Homo sapiens: one gene and its partner. The protein of the gene in region 1 interacts with the protein of each later gene in a pairwise test. Each region holds a gene or a part of one and is shown on either strand. Other genes may lie near its edges.

What was found. The genes of interacting proteins can lie anywhere in the genome.
Region 2: the proteins of RAB33A (region 1) and RUFY3 interact in binary tests that used the Homo sapiens proteins (3 or more experiments, as listed by UniProt).

What each region holds. Positions count from the first base shown.
Region 1 is NC_000023.11:130,181,956-130,185,398, forward strand, and holds the end of RAB33A (ras-related protein Rab-33A), read left to right. Parts: intron 1-2,329; coding exon 2,330-2,785; 3' UTR 2,786-2,915; downstream 2,916-3,443.
Region 2 is NC_000004.12:70,717,067-70,724,963, forward strand, and holds the start of RUFY3 (protein RUFY3), read left to right. Parts: upstream 1-4,897; 5' UTR 4,898-5,507; coding exon 5,508-5,685; intron 5,686-7,897. UniProt on the Homo sapiens protein: ARL8 effector that promotes the coupling of endolysosomes to dynein-dynactin for retrograde transport along microtubules. Acts by binding both GTP-bound ARL8 and dynein-dynactin.

The DNA.
Region 1 (3,443 bases):
AAATAAATAAATAAATAGGGCTTGAAGGTGAGATTTTAATACTAACTTTGTTTTCTTTAAAAAGTTATTCAGGCTAGTGGCTCATGCCTGTAATCCCAGCACATTTTGAGGCCGAGGCAGGAGGATTGCTTGAGGCCAAGAGTTCGAGACTAGCCTAGGCAACATAACAAGATTCTGTCTCTACAAAAAAAAAAAAAAAAAAATATATATATATATATATATATATACACATATATATAACATATATACACACAATATATATAACATATATATGTAATATATATAACATATACACTATATATAACATATATGTAATATATATAACATATATATGCATACTTGTAGAAGAAAATATGGAAAAATATTTAAAAAGAAGAAAATAAATATCACTATAGTCTCATTGCTGATAAATAACCATTAATGTTCTGATGTGTACACTTCCAGTCTGTGCTTTGCATATGTTTATGTTTAACGTTTCTTAAAAAAAACTGGGACCATAGCATATGAAAACTTTTGAGGCTGGGCGTGGTGGCTCATGCCTGTAATCCCAGCTCTTTGGGAAGCCGAGGCAGGCGGATCACCTGAGATCGGGAGTTCAAGACCAGCCTGACCAACATGGAGAAACTCCGTCTCTACTAAAAATATAAAATTAGCCGGGCGTGGTGGCACATGCCTGTAATGCCAGCTACTCAGGAGTCTGAGGTGGGAGAATTGCTTGAACCCAGGTGGCAGAGGTTGCAGTGAGCCGAGATCGTGCCATTTCACTCTAGCCTGGGCAACAGGAACGAAATTCTGTCTCAAAAAAAAAATAAAAGAAAAGAAAAAAGAAAAATTCTGTATTCTGCATTTTCACTTACTTGTATTTTGTGAGCGTTTCTCTTACAATTTAGTCTTTGAAAACATTATTTTTAATGGCTGCATAATATCCCACTGTACGGATATATTTTCATTTTTGTTTATTCTTTTTGAGACGGAGTCTCACTGTGTTGCCCAGGCTGAAGTGCAGTGGCCCGATCTCGGCTTACTGCAACCACCGCCTCCCGGGTTCAAGCAATTCTTGTGTCTCAGCCTCCCGAGTAGCTGGGACTATAGGTACACACCACCAGGCCTGGCTAATTTTTTTTGTATTTCTAGTAGAGATGGGATTTCACCATGTTGGCCAGGCTGGTCTCGAACTCCTGACCTCAGATGATCCACCTGCCTCAGCCTCCCAAAGTGCTGGGATTACAGGCATGAGCCACTGTACCTGACCCCACTGTATAGACATGAACTTTAGCTATTCCTTTTCTGATGAGCATTTAGGTTTTTCCTGTTTTAAAAAAATTCTCAGTGGCTCAAGCCAGTAATCCCAGCACTTTGGGAGGCTGAGGCAGGCGGATCACGAGGTGAGGAGATCGAGACCATCCTGGCTAACACAGTGAAACCCCATCTCTACTAAAAATACAAAAAATTATCCAGGCGTGGTGGCGGGCACCTGTGGTCCCAGCTACTTGGGAGGCTGAGGCAGGAGAATGGCGTGAACCTGGGAGGCGGAGCTTGCAGTGAGCCGAGATGGCGCCACTGCACCCCAGCCTGGGTGACAGAGCGAGACACGGTCTCAAAAAAAAAAATTCTAAATAACACTGTAAGATATTAGTACAGAATTTTGACCACATCCCTATTTCTTTTGTATAGATTTCTGGAAGTGAGATTTCAGGTCCTAAGAGTTATGAACATTTTTGAGGTTCTTGATAATATTGCCAAATTGCTCTCCAGAAAAGTTGACCAATTTACATCCAGTTTTTCAACTAAAAATCTTAAGATTTTTTTCAACTCAAGATTTTCAGTTAACAATCTTAAGAAAAACTTGACAAATCCTGAAACTTCTCTTTATGCTTTGATAAGTCCATTCTGCTCATCTGTCAAAGAACCACTTCCTGTGTCACGGCTTGTCACTTTTTTTATTTTTTTTGAAATGGAGTTTTGCTCTTTTTGCCCAGGCTGGAGTGCAATGGCGTGATCTCGGCTCACTGCAACCTCCGACTCCCTGGTTCAAGCAATTCTCTTGCCTCAGCCTCCCCCGTAGCTGGGATTACAGGCATGCACCACCATGCCCGGCTAATTTTGTATTTTTAGTAGAGTTGAGGTTTCTCCATGTTGGTCAGGCTGGTCTCAAATTCCTGACCTCAGGTGATCTGCCCGCCTCAGCTTCCCAAAGTGCTGGGATTATAGGCGTGAGCCACCGCACCCGTCCTGTCACTTCATTTTTATAGTGCTACAGAACCATGTTTTCTCCTCTCTGTTCATGTTCCCTTTTCTGACTCCACCTTTGGGTTTTTGTATCTTCCAGGTTCAGGTGTGGGACACAGCAGGTCAGGAACGTTTCCGCAAAAGCATGGTCGAGCATTACTACCGCAACGTACATGCCGTGGTCTTCGTCTATGACGTCACCAAGATGACATCTTTCACCAACCTCAAAATGTGGATCCAAGAATGCAATGGGCATGCTGTGCCCCCACTAGTCCCCAAAGTGCTTGTGGGCAACAAGTGTGACTTGAGGGAACAGATCCAGGTGCCCTCCAACTTAGCCCTGAAATTTGCTGATGCCCACAACATGCTCTTGTTTGAGACATCGGCCAAGGACCCCAAAGAGAGCCAGAACGTGGAGTCGATTTTCATGTGCTTGGCTTGCCGATTGAAGGCCCAGAAATCCCTGCTGTATCGTGATGCTGAGAGGCAGCAGGGGAAGGTGCAGAAACTGGAGTTCCCACAGGAAGCTAACAGTAAAACTTCCTGTCCTTGTTGAAACCAAACGATATAAATACAAGATAAATTATCACTGGAGTTTTTTCTTTCCCTTTTTTCTGTGCCTGCATAATGCTGACACCTGCTTGTTTCCATACAAATTGATATCAAAATAAAATTTGTATAGATTATCACATGGCTTTTTGTCTTGCTTTCCTCCAAGACATTCCTGATTGTGATGAGCAGAACAGGCAGTTTGCCCTACTAGAGTGATATTCTCCATGCCAGTGGCACACTCCCTACCAGCTTTCTAGGCTCTCTGAAATTCTCATCGTTTGAGTCACTTCTTCAGGACTAATTCATTCTCTCACTCAGTGTAATCAGTGGGCAGAAACACCCGGTGGGGTTGGGACACAGGCCAGATATGTTTTTCTAGAGAGCAAGTGCAGGTGGAGTGATAGAGAAGTCTTGAAAGGAGATGTGGACTCATCAGTATTTCCTAGGTTCCCTAGATATGTGCCTTGAATGTCCAGATAGACTACTCTCTCCCTATTTTCCAGTTTAAAAGTAAAAAGTATGGCCGGACGCAGTGGCTCACGCCTGTAATACCAAGACTTTGGGAAGCTGAGGCAGGCAGGTCACTTGAGGTCAGGAGTTAGAGACCAGCCTGGCCAACATGGCGAAAACCTGTCTCTACTAATAATACAAAAATTAGCCAG
Region 2 (7,897 bases), on another chromosome or scaffold:
GCAAGAAGGAGCACATAAGTACATATGTTGGTCCATTTCTCCAGTTGAGCAAGGGTTTCAGGGATATTGGTTATATTCTTTAAGGACTTAAAATTATACATTAAGTTTGCTATTTTTAAAAAGCGTACAATGCATCATTTTAGAAAGTGATTCCCCCCTTCATTTATCTTTTTCTATTTTGGAATTTATCAGGTGTTCTTAATGTGTCCAACTAGTATGTAAATGTGGAGGGAACTCAGAGACAGAGTGGTAGTAGGGTGAACCAAGTACATAGTGGAAGCATTTTATCTACCCTTTGTGAGCCCATGACAGAAAAGTCCATACTGGGTTCTCAGTTTGTCAGAATGTGCCCACTTACTAAAAGCCTGAACTTAATATGTAAGTTGGGGGGCCTAGAGGAAGGTATGGGTTGTGCAGCATTAAGGTGTAAAGTATGGAGGCTGATAAAAAAAATTTCTTCAAATCTTAAATTTGTTGAAACTCATCTTTAGGAAATTTCATGAAGAGACTTTGCGTGTGTGTGTGTGTGTTTGTGTGTGTGTGTTTTAAATGTCTTTTTATTTTCTCTGAATAAAATTTAACATCCGGGGATGAGGAAGAGTTAGGATAGAGTGCTGAAGTTGCAGAGTGTAGAAGGAACATGGACTTTGGAGGTATCTAGACAGAAGTAGCTTGGAGTAACAGATCTGCTACTCGCTAATTGTGTGATTCTGGGCCAGTTACGTGGCTGAACTTTGGTTTCATTGTGTATAAAGAGAAGGTATCAATCTCTGTTTTGCAGTGCTTTTGTGAAGACTTGACATGGTATTTTTTTTTTTTTTTTTTTTTTTTTTTGAGACAGAGTCTTACACTGTTGCCCAGGCTGGAGTGCAGTGGCGCGATCTTGGCTTACTGCAACCTCCGCCTCCCGGGTTCACGCCATTCTCCTGCCTCAGCCTCCTGAGTAGCTGGGATTACAGGCACCCACCACCATGCCCAGCTAATTTTTTTGTATTTTTAGTAGAGACGGGGTTTCACCGTGTTAGCCAGGATGGTCTCAATCTCCTGACCTCGTGATCTACCTGCCTCGGCCTCCCAAAGTGCTGGGATTACAGGCGTGAGCCACCGCACCCAGCCCTTTACATGGCATTTGTAAAGCACCTAACAGAAAATAGAAATTTAATAAATGATAGCTATTTTAGGTAATTTTTCCACAATATATAACAGAGACATTGAGCCTGTCAAGTTAACCTTTGTCTTATAGTAGCAGCCGAGTACAAATATCCTTTAAGAGGAATGTAACTTCTGACTTTGAAGTGTGACTCTTATTTGCTTTGAATCCATCATAATGTGGAAAATACAGACTGTTTAAGCAGCTAGAACGTAGTATTTTTTGGATCTTCATTTTGGATTTGAACTTCACACAGGCCTATTCTTTTAGGGCCACAGACTGAACTCCCACCCGCCTCACAACCATCTTACAAATAGGTGCCATTACTCACAAATGGGATCAAATGAGAAAATAGTTCAATACAGCTCATACAGTAATTACTCTGTATGTGAGAAAAAAAATCAAGGTTTGAATATCTTACTGATGGCTTAACTTTAACTTCATATTCAAAGCTAAGATGTTTACTTAGTAAAGACCAAAATGTAAAAACGGTACTAAGCAATATCTAAAATCTTTTTTTTTTTTCTTTGAGACGGAGTTTCACAGGCTGGAGTGCAGTGGTGCAATCTCACCTCACTGCAACCCCCGCCTCCCAGGTTCAAGCGATTCTCCTGCCTCAGCCTCCAGAGTAGCAGATTACAGGCATGTGCCACCACGCCCAGCTAATTTTGTATTTTTAGTAAAGATGGCGTTTCTCCATGTTGGTCAGGCTGGTCTTGAACTCCCGACTTCAGGTGACCCGCCTGCCTCAGCCTCCCACAGTACTGGGATGACAGGCATGAGCCACCGTGCCCGGCCGTAGAATTGTTTTTATAAGTTTCTACAAATAGCACTGTTTTCATAGTAACTTCTTTGCCTGTGAACAATGGATAACTGTTCGTGCTGAAGACTCAATGGTGTTTACCTAAAGAACAGCGTAGAAGTACAGTTTTTCTTGCCCACCCCCGGGTCTTATTTCTGAAATGGCTGCCAACACCTCAAACTGGTAGATCTGGGAAATTCAAGGATACCAATACAGGCATGTTTTTCTTTCCTTGCCAAAAACTTTAGTTGTTTTGGGCTTGCCTCTCTGTGTCCTCTACCTGGAGAGAGGCAGGGTGGGATGGATCTTCCGAAGGAATGTTAATCAAGTTTCTTGCTCACTAACCTTGATGTTCCTGTTGTGTTGGTATGTTGCAATCAATCTAGATCTGTTCAAGTTAGTAAATGCTTACTGGGGTGAAGAGATTGTTGTGGTTTGTGACAAGGCCAAATTCAGGTTTTGGACCCCAGACAATCACATGGCATTCGGATTTATTCATGTATTCCTTGTTCTGTTTTAAGAACATATCAGTGATCTAGAGTTTTGATATCACACATACAGATAGCTAGGGCTGTTTGGAGTTGTGGTTCCAGGAATGTCCCATGTAATTTGAAGGTTTTAATGACTACTTACTATGTTTTGAAGTATTGCATGATATAAAGTGAATCTATAAACTGTCCCCTTATTAATATATAATATGGGAATATTTTTGGCTAGAAAGGAATTGAACTGAATTAAATGAGAATGTGTTAAATGAAGGCTTGTGTTCAGTATTTGGATATGAAAATTCTGTTTCCTGGAAAAGGTGTTTCTGTCTTACTGCTGCGTGCCTAGTGCCTGGATCACTACCTGGCATGTGGAGCACCTCTTAGTGAATATCTGTTGAATGAATGAATGAATGAATGGCTCTGAGTCTAGATGTAGGGTAATGATGAGAGAGAATGAGATAGAAATAAAACCAGGAGTATTTTGCTTTCCTTAGTAACTTACTGATTTTCCCCAATTATAAATAAGCCTATATATATGCCTTCTTACATTGTACCAGTATACCCTCCTTCTTTTTTTTATTTTGAGACAGGGTAGAGTGCAGTGGTATGATCTCGGCTCACTGCAGCCTCTGCCTCCTGGCCTCACGTGATTCTTCCACCTCAGTCTCCCAAGTAGCTAGGACCACATGTGCGCGCAACCATACCTTGCTAATTTTTGTTTTTGTAGAGATGGAGTTTTGCCATGTTGCCCAGGCTGGTTTCAAACTCCTGAGCTCAAGCCATTCACCTGCCTCAGCCTCCCAAAGTGCTGGGATTACAGGCACATGCCACCACATCTGACTAATTTTTGTATTTTTAGTAGAGATGAGGTTTCACCATGTTGGCCAGGCTGGTCTCGAACTCCTGACCTCAGGTGATTTGCCCGCCTTGGCCTCCCAAAGTGCTGGTATTATAGGCATGAGCCACCGCGCCCAGCCATCCGCCCTGTCTTCGTAACAATATGAAAATGCCAGTTTCTCTACAGAATTTGATTATTAGCATTTTTTTCTTTCAGTTCAGTCTCAAATTATGATGAAGCATTTGAGATTTTAACAATATTCAAGGAGAATTTTTTTAGTTTTCAGAAATTAGGTAAATCAAGATGTCCCTCTGATAACAATCCCTAGAAAGGAATAGTCTCAGGTCATATTTCTTGAATTTGTATGTTCCTCCTTAAAATTGGAACCCTTCAATACAAAAACAAACAAACACTTTCTTTCAATTGTCCAAAACATTTTCAAAGAAAATTCTTATTCTTCTCTTTGTAATTTATGTAGTTCATAAAGCAAGTACCTGCCCTTTTGCTACCAAGGTATAAATGCCTCATTGGATAATATAGGGCCGTGTGTGTGTGTGTGTGTGTGTGTGTGTGTGTGTGTGTGTGTGTGTATTAAGAAAATATAATTGTCTTCAGTATCTTATCGAATGGGAGGATTTTAAAAATATAACATGGTTTAATCTGCTTAGAAACATATTTCATGCTTAAGGCTGGGCATGGTGGCTCACGCCTGTAATCCCAGCACTTTGGGAGGCTGAGGTGGGAGGATCATGAGGTCAGAAGTTCAAGACCAGCCTGGCCAAGATGGTGAAACCCCGTCTCTACTAAAAATACAAAAATTAGCTGGGCGTGGTGGTGGGTGCCTGTAATCCCAGCTACTCGGGAGGCTGAGGCAGAGAATTGCTTGGACCTGGGAGCTGAGATCACGCCACTGCACTCCAGCCTGGGCTACAGAGCAAGACTCTGTCTCAAAAAAGAAAAAAGAAAAAAAAAGAAACGTATTTTATGCTTAATACAGAAACTTGATAAATACAACAAAATCAAAAAGGGGGGAAATTGCCATTAATTGGGAAAGATTTTACTTTTTTAACTTGAAGTTTTTTTTTTGCATTTCTGCCTAACCTAAAAGGTCAGGTTTTTGTACCTTGGAGAAGGAAATTATAAATGCCCAAGAATAAGATATTTAAATTGAAAATCTACTTTAGCTTTTCTTTTTATCTTTTTGTTTTTTTTCCCTCTGAGAACCTCAATTTTTTATGCTTTAGCTTTTCTTAAAACATAACATTTAGCATAGTAAAGAATTTTAATAGCTATGTAGATAAGAATGAAAGAGGTGAATTATATGCTTGTTAAATTAATCTAACTGCCTCTTTTACCATCTTTACTATAGATTATTATCCGGTATTAATTGTCATCCTTTTATTCAGTCCTTGATCCCAAAGTAAGAAGAATTGATGAGGATATGTGCATTGTGTTATGTCTGATCACAGTTTGACTAGCACAGTCTGGAAGTGGGTTGTACAGGATGAGAGAGAGAAGCCTAATTGCTCTCCCAGCATCAGCAGCATCTATAAAGCATCCTGGGAATTGCTTGCCCTACGTTCAGAGCAGCTGGTCACATGAGCCTGAATTTTCAGTTCAGTTCATTAGTCAGCCATTTTGGTCAACACCCTGCTTACTGCGCACGGCCAATCCTATGAGAACTCAGCATCCCAGCTCATCTGAGCAGATCCTGGAAGTGATTTCTGCAGCTCAGGATTTTTTTTTTAAGCTACATTGAAAATATAGGTTTATTTTTTGTTCAGGTTTTTCTTTTATATTTTTTTTCTGCACAAAGGAGGAGGATTTTTCACTTACTCATATCGAGGCCAGATTTTTAAAGCCAGCTAAGGCAGCATCAGCTGTGCGGGATTTAAAGCCTATAGCTCAGCTGAAAAAAAAGGTGGGGGGCAGGGAAGGGAAGATAAAAGGAGAGGAAGCTGGGAGAAGACAAGCATCATCTTATTTTGCTATGTGGTAGGAACTGTCTATAAGATAGTGTAGAATTGTTTATCTTGAGCAGTTTGTTCTTAACCTATAAGGTATTTTTCCTTTTTTTTTTTTTTAAACCTCCCCCACCCTTTTCCTGAAAGCTTTGTTTCAGAGCTTTGTATTGGGTTTTTTTGGTGAGGAGGTTGTATTTATTTTTTTGGTGTGTGTGTGTGAGTGTGTGTGTGTCTGTGTGTGTGTTGTGGTCCCAGCTGAGTCATCATGTCTGCTCTGACGCCTCCGACCGATATGCCAACCCCCACCACTGACAAGATCACACAGGCTGCCATGGAGACCATCTACCTTTGCAAATTCCGAGTGTCCATGGATGGAGAATGGCTCTGCCTGCGAGAGCTGGATGACATCTCACTTACACCTGACCCAGAGCCTACCCATGAAGGTATGGTCAGATCCTGTCCGCTAGTATTTCACCAGCATCCTCATTGTTATGGGGGAGGGCTGGGAGGATCAGGGAGAGGTAGAAAGAACCTACACTCTCAACTGTTAACAGTCCTGAAAACCTTGCATCCTTACTTACCACCCAGCTCCCCTTCTCTTGCTCATGGGGGAAAGATAATTTTTTTTCTTGCCCCTTTAGGTATCCTTTCAAAAGATGCTGGATACTCGTTTAGAGTTCTTTGTCTTTAAGCCTCTAAATAAAACATTTGAGGTCACTTATCACATCTGATTCTATTCAATAATGAGAAAGCTATTAATTTTGTTCATATATGAAAATGTTATAGAAATTGTAGTGATTTATAACACTAAGTTAAGACAACATGACTATAATTATAGGATTGTACATGATGAATACAGTAGAAACACCAGGGTATTTGGTAATGGTATCCTCACCATTATATGAGGATACAATTTTAAGCAAGTTATGACATCTAGGAAATGTTTGATAAAACATTTTTTTAACAATATGGATTATTAGGTTAGATGAGAAAATAACTTTTCAGCATTTATTTATTGAATATGGACTCCTAAGAAAGCATAATGCCTGGAAAGGTTAAATATGATTAATATGGCATCCCTATAGATTACAATAGAATGGTAATATTGGAATCTATTGGCCATTGCTTTTTATAAATTATTTGTGGTAACTATTATGATCCATTTGAGATTTCCACTGTCAGTACCTCTGAGATCTTTGTGGTCTCTTGACTTGCGACTTTTTTCCAGGACTCTTGCTAATTTATGAGAGGTTTTCTGCTTCTACCCTTTAATTCTCTTAATACCACAGAAAGAGAGCTGATTTGAATCATAGCTACAAATCGTTTTGTTTTTAATACAGTTGCTTCTTAGCTAAGGTTTATTCTCTGTCCTTATACTGATGAAAAAAAACAAAAAACGCTTGCATATGAGGAGAAATTCTTTATAAACATCTGCCTGATAGTTAGGCACATCGACAGGACAAAGAAGACCATAGGTGAATTGTACCTAGCAGATGGGGTTAGGAAAGGTGATTCTCTGCCTTTGACCTTGAGTTGAAATCTTATCATGACTCAGAATTTTCCCATTGTGTTTGATAAGCATTTTATCTTCCCAGTCAGCCTTAGCCTTGAGAAAGTTTTAGGGATGGTTAATAACACAGAACACAAAGCAGTCATTTTGGGTGTGTCTTTAAGAACAATGTTTAAGTGGTTTTTAAGACCCTTTGCATCTTTTAACAATTGGTTTGTTAATTAGACAGCTTTCTTTGGCTGTATGTTTCGTTATGTGCACAAGTTATAAGACATCAGCTGAAATTCCATGCAATGCCAGTACTATTTATTTTTTATTATTATTTTATTCTATATTTTCATCAAAACATCGTTACATCCAACAATTCCAGTACTACTTAAAACAGCCTCCAAAGCTTTAAAAGTCTTTAGGGAAGAAAAATACAGTTTTAGAAGGCTACCAAGAAGTCTTCTGGCAACTGCCTCAGTTTACATATTTTGTTTGAAAAAAATGTATTCCCGTCCAATTTGAGAGTTATACAATATGAAATATTCCCTTTATCATGAAATCTAGTTTACCAGTGTCTCAAAAATAATTTTTAACAATTTTAACACCTCAAATATATGTTTTTGGAGCAGGATTCCTATGGATAAGCAAAAGTGAGCTGTTTGGTTCATGTAAGCGTTTTTAGCAGCGCCATTTGAATTCTTCATAGAGAAATCTGTAGCAACACATTTCTCAGTATGGAAAATGTGTGAGAGCTATAATCTAAGTAATAAATTGTATGTCTGCTGATTAAAGAAATCAGATAAATACAGAGTTTCCAAGACCTGTAATCAACTATAGAGGATTTGGAAGAAAATAGAGAAATGCCGACAGTGCATTTTAGAATTTTGCCTTAAATTGGGCAAGAAAGCTATTATTTTAAATTACTAGAAATGAAAATAAAGAAAGCATAGTCCCATGAAAGCCTGTGAGTATTACTGCCTTGCTCCATTACCAAACTCTGGATATTTAAACAGTCATTTGGTCCCAAGAAATACCCACTTTTATGTTAATACCACTGATAGTTATTAGATTTAATTTAGCTATAAGCATTTAAGTGGTGGTCACCAGGCCCATGATTATGTGAATCTCACCTTGTTCACAAAATGGAACTCCTGATG